Homo sapiens: one gene and its partner. The protein of the gene in region 1 interacts with the protein of each later gene in a pairwise test. Each region holds a gene or a part of one and is shown on either strand. Other genes may lie near its edges.

Region 1 (3,805 bases):
GGAAAATATCTGGATTCTTCTGTAATATACAGGCGTGGCTGCCATGGAGAAAAAGTTAAAAGGGGACCAGGACTAGTAGGTGAATGTATCCTTCTTCTCCACCCTGGAGAAAAAGCCCAATGGAGAGAGGGCCCTAGATTCAAGTCATATAGCCTGGAAGCACCATCTCCAGGTTTAAGTTTTGTCTTGCAGTGAAAACAGATGGGTCCATCTTACCCAGCCCTTGAGGCTCATTGGGCAGCTTGGATGTGAGAAGCGCTCCGGCTGCTATCCTGGAGTGGGCAAGGGTGGCCCTCGAGATTCTGGGTTTATTCTTTGGATTTCCAGGGTTCCTGCTGCTTCCCCAGGAATGCAGGGCCTGGCCCAAGACTTGGGCTGTGAGAGGCAAGGGCATCAACTCTCAAAAATGTGGAAATGGCCATCAGAGCGCCAAGGCCAAACCCCAGGGGAGAGGAATCAAGGCCGTCTCTGGATCCCTAGGGCAGTCTAGCCATGGTGCACAGGCAGGGGCAATTGTTGGTACCCACTCACAACCGCCCAAAACTTCACAAGCATGTTCATATTTTAAATTCTTAAATATTATATCTTGCATCCTAATCTTGTAAACATTAATTTAGCAAACATCAATCGCCTACTTGGTCAGGCACTGGGTTCTGAATATTAATTAAGACAATGGCCTCGAGAACCTTTGCAAGAAGCTCACCAGCTAATCCTGGAGAGGCCCCTTGTTTTGGATGAGGAAATCCAGGTTCTATGAGATTAGGTGGCAGAGGTGGGATTTGAACCCAGACCATGCTAGGGTGTTTCTACTCCTTTTCCAGGGATCTTGGCCCCACCGTTGAGATGGATTTCTTCTGGCCTGCGGGAGGGGCACCAAACTCTTAGTCCATGTGTGGGGGTTGACGGGTTTGTGAGGGCAGATGTGGGGTGAGGACTTGAGTAGCCCCAGACTAGATGCAAGGCTTAAGGAGGAGGGGAAAAAAGCTTGCTTGGGCCGGACGCGGTGGCTCGAGGCGGTTGGATCACCTGAGGTCAGGAGTTTGAGACCAGCCTGGCCAACACGGTGAAACCCTGTCTCTACTGAAAATACAAAAAAAAAAATTGGCCGGGCTTGGTGACGGGCGCCTATAATCCCAGCTACTCGGGAGGCTGAGGCACAAGAATCGTTTGAACCCGGGAGGCTGAGGTTGAAGTGAGCTGAGATCGCGCCACTGCACTGCAGCCTGGGCGACAGAGCGAAACTCCGTCTCGGAAAAAAAAAAAAAAAAAAGAGGTTGCCTGCTAGTCCACTGATCCCGCAGCCCCGCAGGCTCGCAGAACCCTAAGGCATGATTAGGCCTGGGATCATCAGGCCACCCTAGGGTCAGGTGCGGAGGCCTGCGACGCCCGAGGGCCAAAGGCTCCCTCTTCCGGTCACACAGGAGAGGGTATTTTGTTGGGGGACAGGTTTTCCCCAATCACAGTGCAGCTGCAGTCATCGTTTTCAGCCTTCTGAGCACCTTCCTGGCTGAGCCTGCTGTCCATTTCACCCCTCAGCTCTCACGGCCCGGCCAGGCCAGGCGGTTCCCGGCTTCTCTGCAGCCGCCGGCGGGGGAGGAGGGCACAGAGCGCGTCTCGCCTCTTAGCGCACGGTCAAGGTTGCGCTCCCCTCCCGGGCCGGGACTAACCGTGGGAAAGGCGCTACCTTGGCCACTCGATTCTCTCCCTCCAAGGCCTGTACAAGGAGCCTTTGAACACGCTGCTCCTTCCAGCCGGCAGCTTTACCTCCCCTGGCCCCTGCCCCCGCACTCTCCGCGCCAGGCCAAGCGCTGGGCCCAGGGACAGCGCGCTCTAATCAAACCCGTGTCCGATAAGCTTCTAATTAAAAGAGACCTCCCTCCGCTCCGCAGGCGCTTTCACCACTGCCCCTCCCGGGGGGACCTGAAGGAGAGGGTTTGAGGCCGGTCTTTGCCCGCCGAGGTCTGCGTGTCCGGTCTGGGAGGAGGCCTAGGAGGGCTCGCGGGCCACGGGCATCCTTGGGCCCGAGTTCTGGGGTGCGGACGGACGTCTCGAGAGTGGGTGCCGCGACTCGGGACCCACGGCCCTCGCCGGGCACGGACAGTTGCGGAGCAGGGCTCTGAGGATTGTGCAGTGCCCTGGGTCCCTGCCTACTCCTGGGCTCAGGAATGGAGAAGGGTTCGTCTAGAGAAAACTTCTTCGTAGCTTCTATTTCGTCTCTCTCTCTCTCTCTCTCTCTCTCTCTCTCTCTCCCTCCCTCTCTCTCTCTCTCTCTGTGTCTGTCTCTCTTTCTCTCTCTCTCTTTTTAGTGTCCTTTCAGAAATTCGGCCTTCACTCCGGGCAATAGTGGGTGCCCTGAGCCAAATTTCGTTTGTAAGCTCATCTATAGGCCTCAAAGAAGGCCAGGCCTCAGGTTTCAAAAGGAAGTCTGTGGAAGCCCAAACGTGCTCGCCCATGCAGGAGAGCTAACGGGGCCGGGGGTTATCTTTGCCCACTTAGCAGGAGAGAAATGGAGGCCCTCGAGGTCATATGATAAAAGCTAGTGGCTTCTCAAATCCCCAGTGTGTGGTGCTGAGCAGTGTGTGAGACTTAAGCCTGGACCTGTACTATCCGGGAGTTAGGATTTGCCCCCTCCTTCCCTCCCTTGCACTCTGCCACACCACCCTCCAGGCTCATGCCTCTGTTGCCCCAGAGAAGCTTTTTTTTTTTCTTTTTCTTTTTTTTTTTTTCTGGGCGGGGGGTGGTGGTGTGTGTGCATGAGCGTCCGTGTGTGTTTCGAAAATGGAGGTAACGATGCCCTGGGTCCTGCTCATCGGCTGAGTCCTGCTTAAGTCTTTGGAGGCACTTTGGTCAAATAGTGCAAGAGTGGGAGAATGGGTGCTGTTTGACCCAATTTACTCCTGAGAATTTTGTGAAGTTTGGAGACCCAGGGCAGTCCTGGGCCAGGAGGATCTGAGGCTGCTGGGGTGGCCCTGCCAGGATCCCATAGGAGCAGCTCTCCTTAGCCATTGTGTCTGGACTTCAGGCCACAGACTCCGGAACTTGTAGAGGAATGAGACCCCATCCTTGGGTTCCGGGGCCAATGACGTATCTTTAGCCGAAGGATCCTTTTCCCCAGAGGCAGCAACAGCTTTCCAGAAGCTTGTGGGGTATAAGTTTAAAGCAATTTAATAACAAAAATTATAAAAGACTATGTTTTCCAACTGAGGCTCCACGCTCTTTTTCTCACTTTGGGGGGGGGGGGGAATGCTAGGATTTCCCTAGGGGGAAACTGAGGCAAAGGACCGAAGCACTACCATGGAGGGAAAGGGAGATACAGTGTCAGGCACACTCTAAAGGAAATTGGTTGTCCAGCCTGGGGAGTGAGGAAGTTGGCTCCTACAGCAGTGGTCAGGGTCGGACCCCTGGGCGCAAGGTGGGTCCCATAGGGGGGAGGAGGAGGAGAGCGCAGGGTCGCCATCTGAAGGCCCAACTGGAAGGGGCCCTTGTTTTCCCCCTCACCAGCTTTCCCTTGGGTGTCATGGTGTCAGGTCGGGTAGCCCCAGACAGATAACATTACTCGGTAATTACTCTTCCCATTTTTAAGACCAGGCCATTTAACTGGCTCCGAGTAATTAATGAAAGTTGGTGCGCGGGCCCCTGATTTACAGCTCGGAGTCAACGCGGGGTTAGCCCAGCAGATTCATTTCGCTTGCCCGCGCTGCTCCTGCGGAAGAGCTGCAGTTTATTTTTGGGGGGTGAACAACCTTCTCTGTCGATCAGGCAACGAGTTTTATACTTAATTTGCCAGGGGTTCGCTGCAGAAGCG
Region 2 (3,805 bases), on another chromosome or scaffold:
AAGTGTCAGGAAAAGCCCAGGACAGAGAGAGCCCTTTAACACCTCTCAGCATCAGAGCCCGGCTGGCCCAGCCAGGGTCTCTGCACCTGGCCAGAACTGGGCGGGCTGGGAGTGGGGCAGGTAGCCCCTGCAGAAAAGACAGGTGGGCAGCCGAGGGGGCGCCTGCCTTCCCTTCCATCCCAGGGCTCGGGCCCCATCTGTCTCCCCCTACTTTGACTTTTGGCCACCTCAGTGTTGTCCTGCCCCTTTCTTGGGGCCAGGCCTCTTTGCCTCAATGGGCCTGGGATTCCCGCCAGGCCCAGTCACTTGCCTGGGCCTCTGCAACTTCACCTCCCCTCTGCATCCCATACAGGGCCCGAAGAGTCCTCCCTGGGGCTGGGGCTGGGGCTGGGGCTGGGACTGTCACCCACAGCAGGGCCCTGACCCCACCCCTCCTCCCTCCAGGTTCTCGGGCAGCCAGCACTGTGGCCACATCCACTGTGCCTACCAGTACCGCGAGCACTACCACTGCCTTGACCCTGAGTGTAACTACCAGGTACGGCCACAGCCAGATGGGCTCCGCCTCTCCGCCACCAGCACAGCATGGAGGCGCTTAGAAGTCGGCAGGCGGGGACGGCAGTGGGGGGGGTTAGTTCTAGTTGCACCACCCAAACTTGACTTGAGCAGGTAGAGGGCCCGCAAAACCACCAGCCTGCCCACATTCCCCGATTCCTGCCGACAGAGCAGCTCCTACGATTGGGGGCCAGTGACCTCCCAGTGGTGATCATTCCAGTCCCCTTTGACTGAGAGCCTCCCACGTGCCCAGGGCCATGCCAGCCAGCCTATGAGCCTTGCCTAATTGACTCTTTGCAGTGGCCTTAGAAGGTTAGCATTACTGCCCCATCTTAAAGATGATAAAATTGTGGCTCAGCCAGAGTGCCACTGTGCCCAAGGCTGCCCGCCAGTGAGCGCGGGGCTGGTGAGTGGGGGGAGAGTCAGGGCAGCCTGCGTGGGGTGGCTCCCTCTGGCTTGCCAGGGATCCCAGCCTGCCTTAGTCCAGAGGTGCACTGGGCGGGATGAGCTGTCAGCATCAGAGCCCCTGCCCTCAAGGCCTGGCCCAATGCATCATCTGTGCTCCTGGGGATGGCCACTGGGCACCTAGGGGAGCATCGGGGAAGAATCTATGGTCCTAGAACCTTTGGGATGGTTCCCTCCAAGGGCTGATGTGCCTGCCACTGGCCTTGGACAATCTGGGCTGCCTTGACCCCAAGCAGGGTTCTTTCTAGGGAGACCTGAGGCCAGCACCTGGCCCAGGTGCTCTTGGCATATGGGAGGAAGGGCGGAGGGGGAGCTCAGGCTCCTGCCCACGTGGCGCTGTCTCCTGGCAGAGGTTCACGAGTAAGCAGGACGTGATCCGCCACTACAACATGCACAAGAAGCGCGACAACTCCCTGCAGCACGGCTTCATGCGTTTCAGCCCGCTGGACGACTGCAGCGTCTACTACCACGGCTGCCACCTCAATGGGAAGAGCACCCACTATCACTGCATGCAGGTGCCTCCCGCACCCGGGCCCACTGGGCAGCTGCAGGACTGGCCCAGGCCCTCCCGGCTCTGAGCCCCCCACTCCCAGAGGCAGGGCTGCCCCATGGGCAGGGACCCCAGTTGATCAGGAGCCTCTCTTTCCCCTGGCCCAGCACAGGGATGGCCAGCGAGCCAGGAGGGTCCTGGGGGTTCAGGCTTGGGCAGCGTCTGGTGGGCCAGGGTGGGGCCTTCCCCATGGCCATACTTGGTGTGGATGAAATTCAGTGAGCTGTTTATACAGATGGACATTTTTCAGGCTTTAACACCAAGAGCAGCATTGCAAATGATTCCTGAGGAGGTTTTTGTTTAATTCTTTGTTTTAATGCCACGCAGAGTCTGGGCTTTTTCAAGGTGTCAGGGCCAGGAGGAGCGACTTTGGGTTGCAAATAGCAGCCCTATGCCTCCCCCGGTATTTGTCAGGAGTTGTTATGGCCTCTGTGAACAACCTGGGCCACGAGGAGAGGGGGGCCACCCTCTGGGCTCTGAGATGGTGCAGACACTGGCACGGCCCAGCCTACGAGAGTGTTCGGATTCCACGGGTTTTTACTCAATATGGCAACGTTGCCTTCCTGGCCCAGCTGGGGTGGGGTGGGAGGGCCCCGTGCCCAGGGACTGTCCACTAAGCAAATCCCTGGGCTAAAGGTGACCTCCAGGGTCCAGCCCCTGTCCACCCACTGAGGGTTTTAGAGGTAGGGCCATGGATTGGAACTCAAAATCCAACTCCTGCAGGATGCAGCTCCCTCCCCTGGGCCAAAAAGTGCCCTGAGTCTCCGGAGATGCCCTGATCCTCAGCACAGACGGAGCCAGGCTCCAGCAGCACTTGGTCCCTCTGTGGAGGCCTGAGGGGCTGTTGGAGGCTTTCTACTCTGCTTCCTACATCAACATCCCGAGGCCTCCAGTTTGAAGTCAGAGGTGCCAAAGCTTCCCTGAGCAGGGAAGTCAGTGGCCCCAGCCACACACAGTGGTGTCGACCTCGGCCCAGGAGCACCTGGCCTCCGTTCGCCTGACCACCATCCCGTCCTGTGCAGGTGGGCTGTAACAAGGTGTACACGAGCACGTCTGACGTGATGACCCACGAGAACTTCCACAAGAAGAATACCCAGCTCATTAACGACGGCTTCCAGCGCTTCCGAGCCACCGAAGACTGTGGCACAGCCGACTGCCAGTTCTACGGACAGAAGACCACGCACTTCCACTGCAGGTAAGCGGGAGCCTGGTGGGGGCCTTCGTGGGCAGAAGCGGGGAGGGAAGGCAAGGACCCAGGCTCGTGGGACGGCTCAGGCCCCTGCCTCGGTGTCCAGCCTGGGTTTTCCACCCGGGGGACTGTCCCTCCCAGGGCCATGGTGTAGCAGGGTGGGGCCTCCTCTGGGTCTCATGACAGGCTCCCAATGTCCCATCCAGGCGCCCCGGCTGCACATTCACTTTCAAGAACAAGTGTGACATCGAGAAGCACAAGAGCTACCACATCAAGGACGATGCCTACGCCAAGGACGGCTTCAAGAAGTTCTACAAGTACGAGGAGTGCAAGTACGAGGGCTGCGTGTACAGCAAGGCTACCAACCACTTCCACTGCATCCGCGCCGGCTGCGGCTTCACCTTCACCTCCACCAGCCAGATGACCTCTCACAAGCGCAAGCATGAGCGCCGGCACATCCGCTCCTCGGGCGCGCTGGGGCTGCCGCCCTCGCTGCTGGGCGCCAAGGACACGGAGCACGAGGAGTCCAGCAACGACGACCTTGTTGACTTCTCCGCCCTGAGCAGCAAGAACTCCAGCCTGAGCGCCTCCCCTACCAGCCAGCAGTCCTCTGCGTCCCTGGCTGCCGCCACTGCCGCCACCGAGGCTGGGCCCAGTGCCACCAAACCTCCCAACAGCAAGATCTCGGGGCTGCTGCCCCAGGGCCTGCCTGGCTCAATCCCCCTGGCCCTGGCCCTCTCCAACTCGGGCCTGCCCACCCCCACGCCCTACTTCCCCATACTGGCTGGCCGTGGGAGCACCTCCCTGCCTGTGGGCACCCCCAGCCTCCTGGGTGCCGTGTCGTCTGGGTCAGCAGCCTCAGCCACCCCTGACACACCCACGCTGGTCGCCTCGGGAGCTGGAGACTCAGCCCCCGTGGCTGCCGCCTCTGTCCCGGCACCACCCGCCTCCATCATGGAGAGGATCTCTGCAAGCAAGGGCCTCATCTCGCCCATGATGGCCAGGCTGGCTGCAGCTGCCCTCAAGCCCTCTGCCACCTTTGACCCAGG

Evidence for each region.
Region 2: the proteins of WT1 (region 1) and CASZ1 interact in a two-hybrid assay, tested with the Homo sapiens proteins (one large-scale study listed by BioGRID and IntAct).

Annotation. Positions count from the first base shown.
Region 1 is NC_000011.10:32,428,900-32,432,704, reverse strand, and holds part of WT1 (Wilms tumor protein), read left to right. Parts: intron 1-1,891; exon of another isoform or gene 1,892-2,165; coding exon of another isoform or gene 2,166-2,175; intron 2,176-3,805. UniProt on the Homo sapiens protein: Transcription factor that plays an important role in cellular development and cell survival. Recognizes and binds to the DNA sequence 5'-GCG(T/G)GGGCG-3'. Regulates the expression of numerous target genes, including EPO.
Region 2 is NC_000001.11:10,653,376-10,657,180, reverse strand, and holds part of CASZ1 (zinc finger protein castor homolog 1), read left to right. Parts: intron 1-444; coding exon 445-535; intron 536-1,367; coding exon 1,368-1,532; intron 1,533-2,589; coding exon 2,590-2,762; intron 2,763-2,962; coding exon 2,963-3,804; intron 3,805-3,805. UniProt on the Homo sapiens protein: Transcriptional activator. Involved in vascular assembly and morphogenesis through direct transcriptional regulation of EGFL7.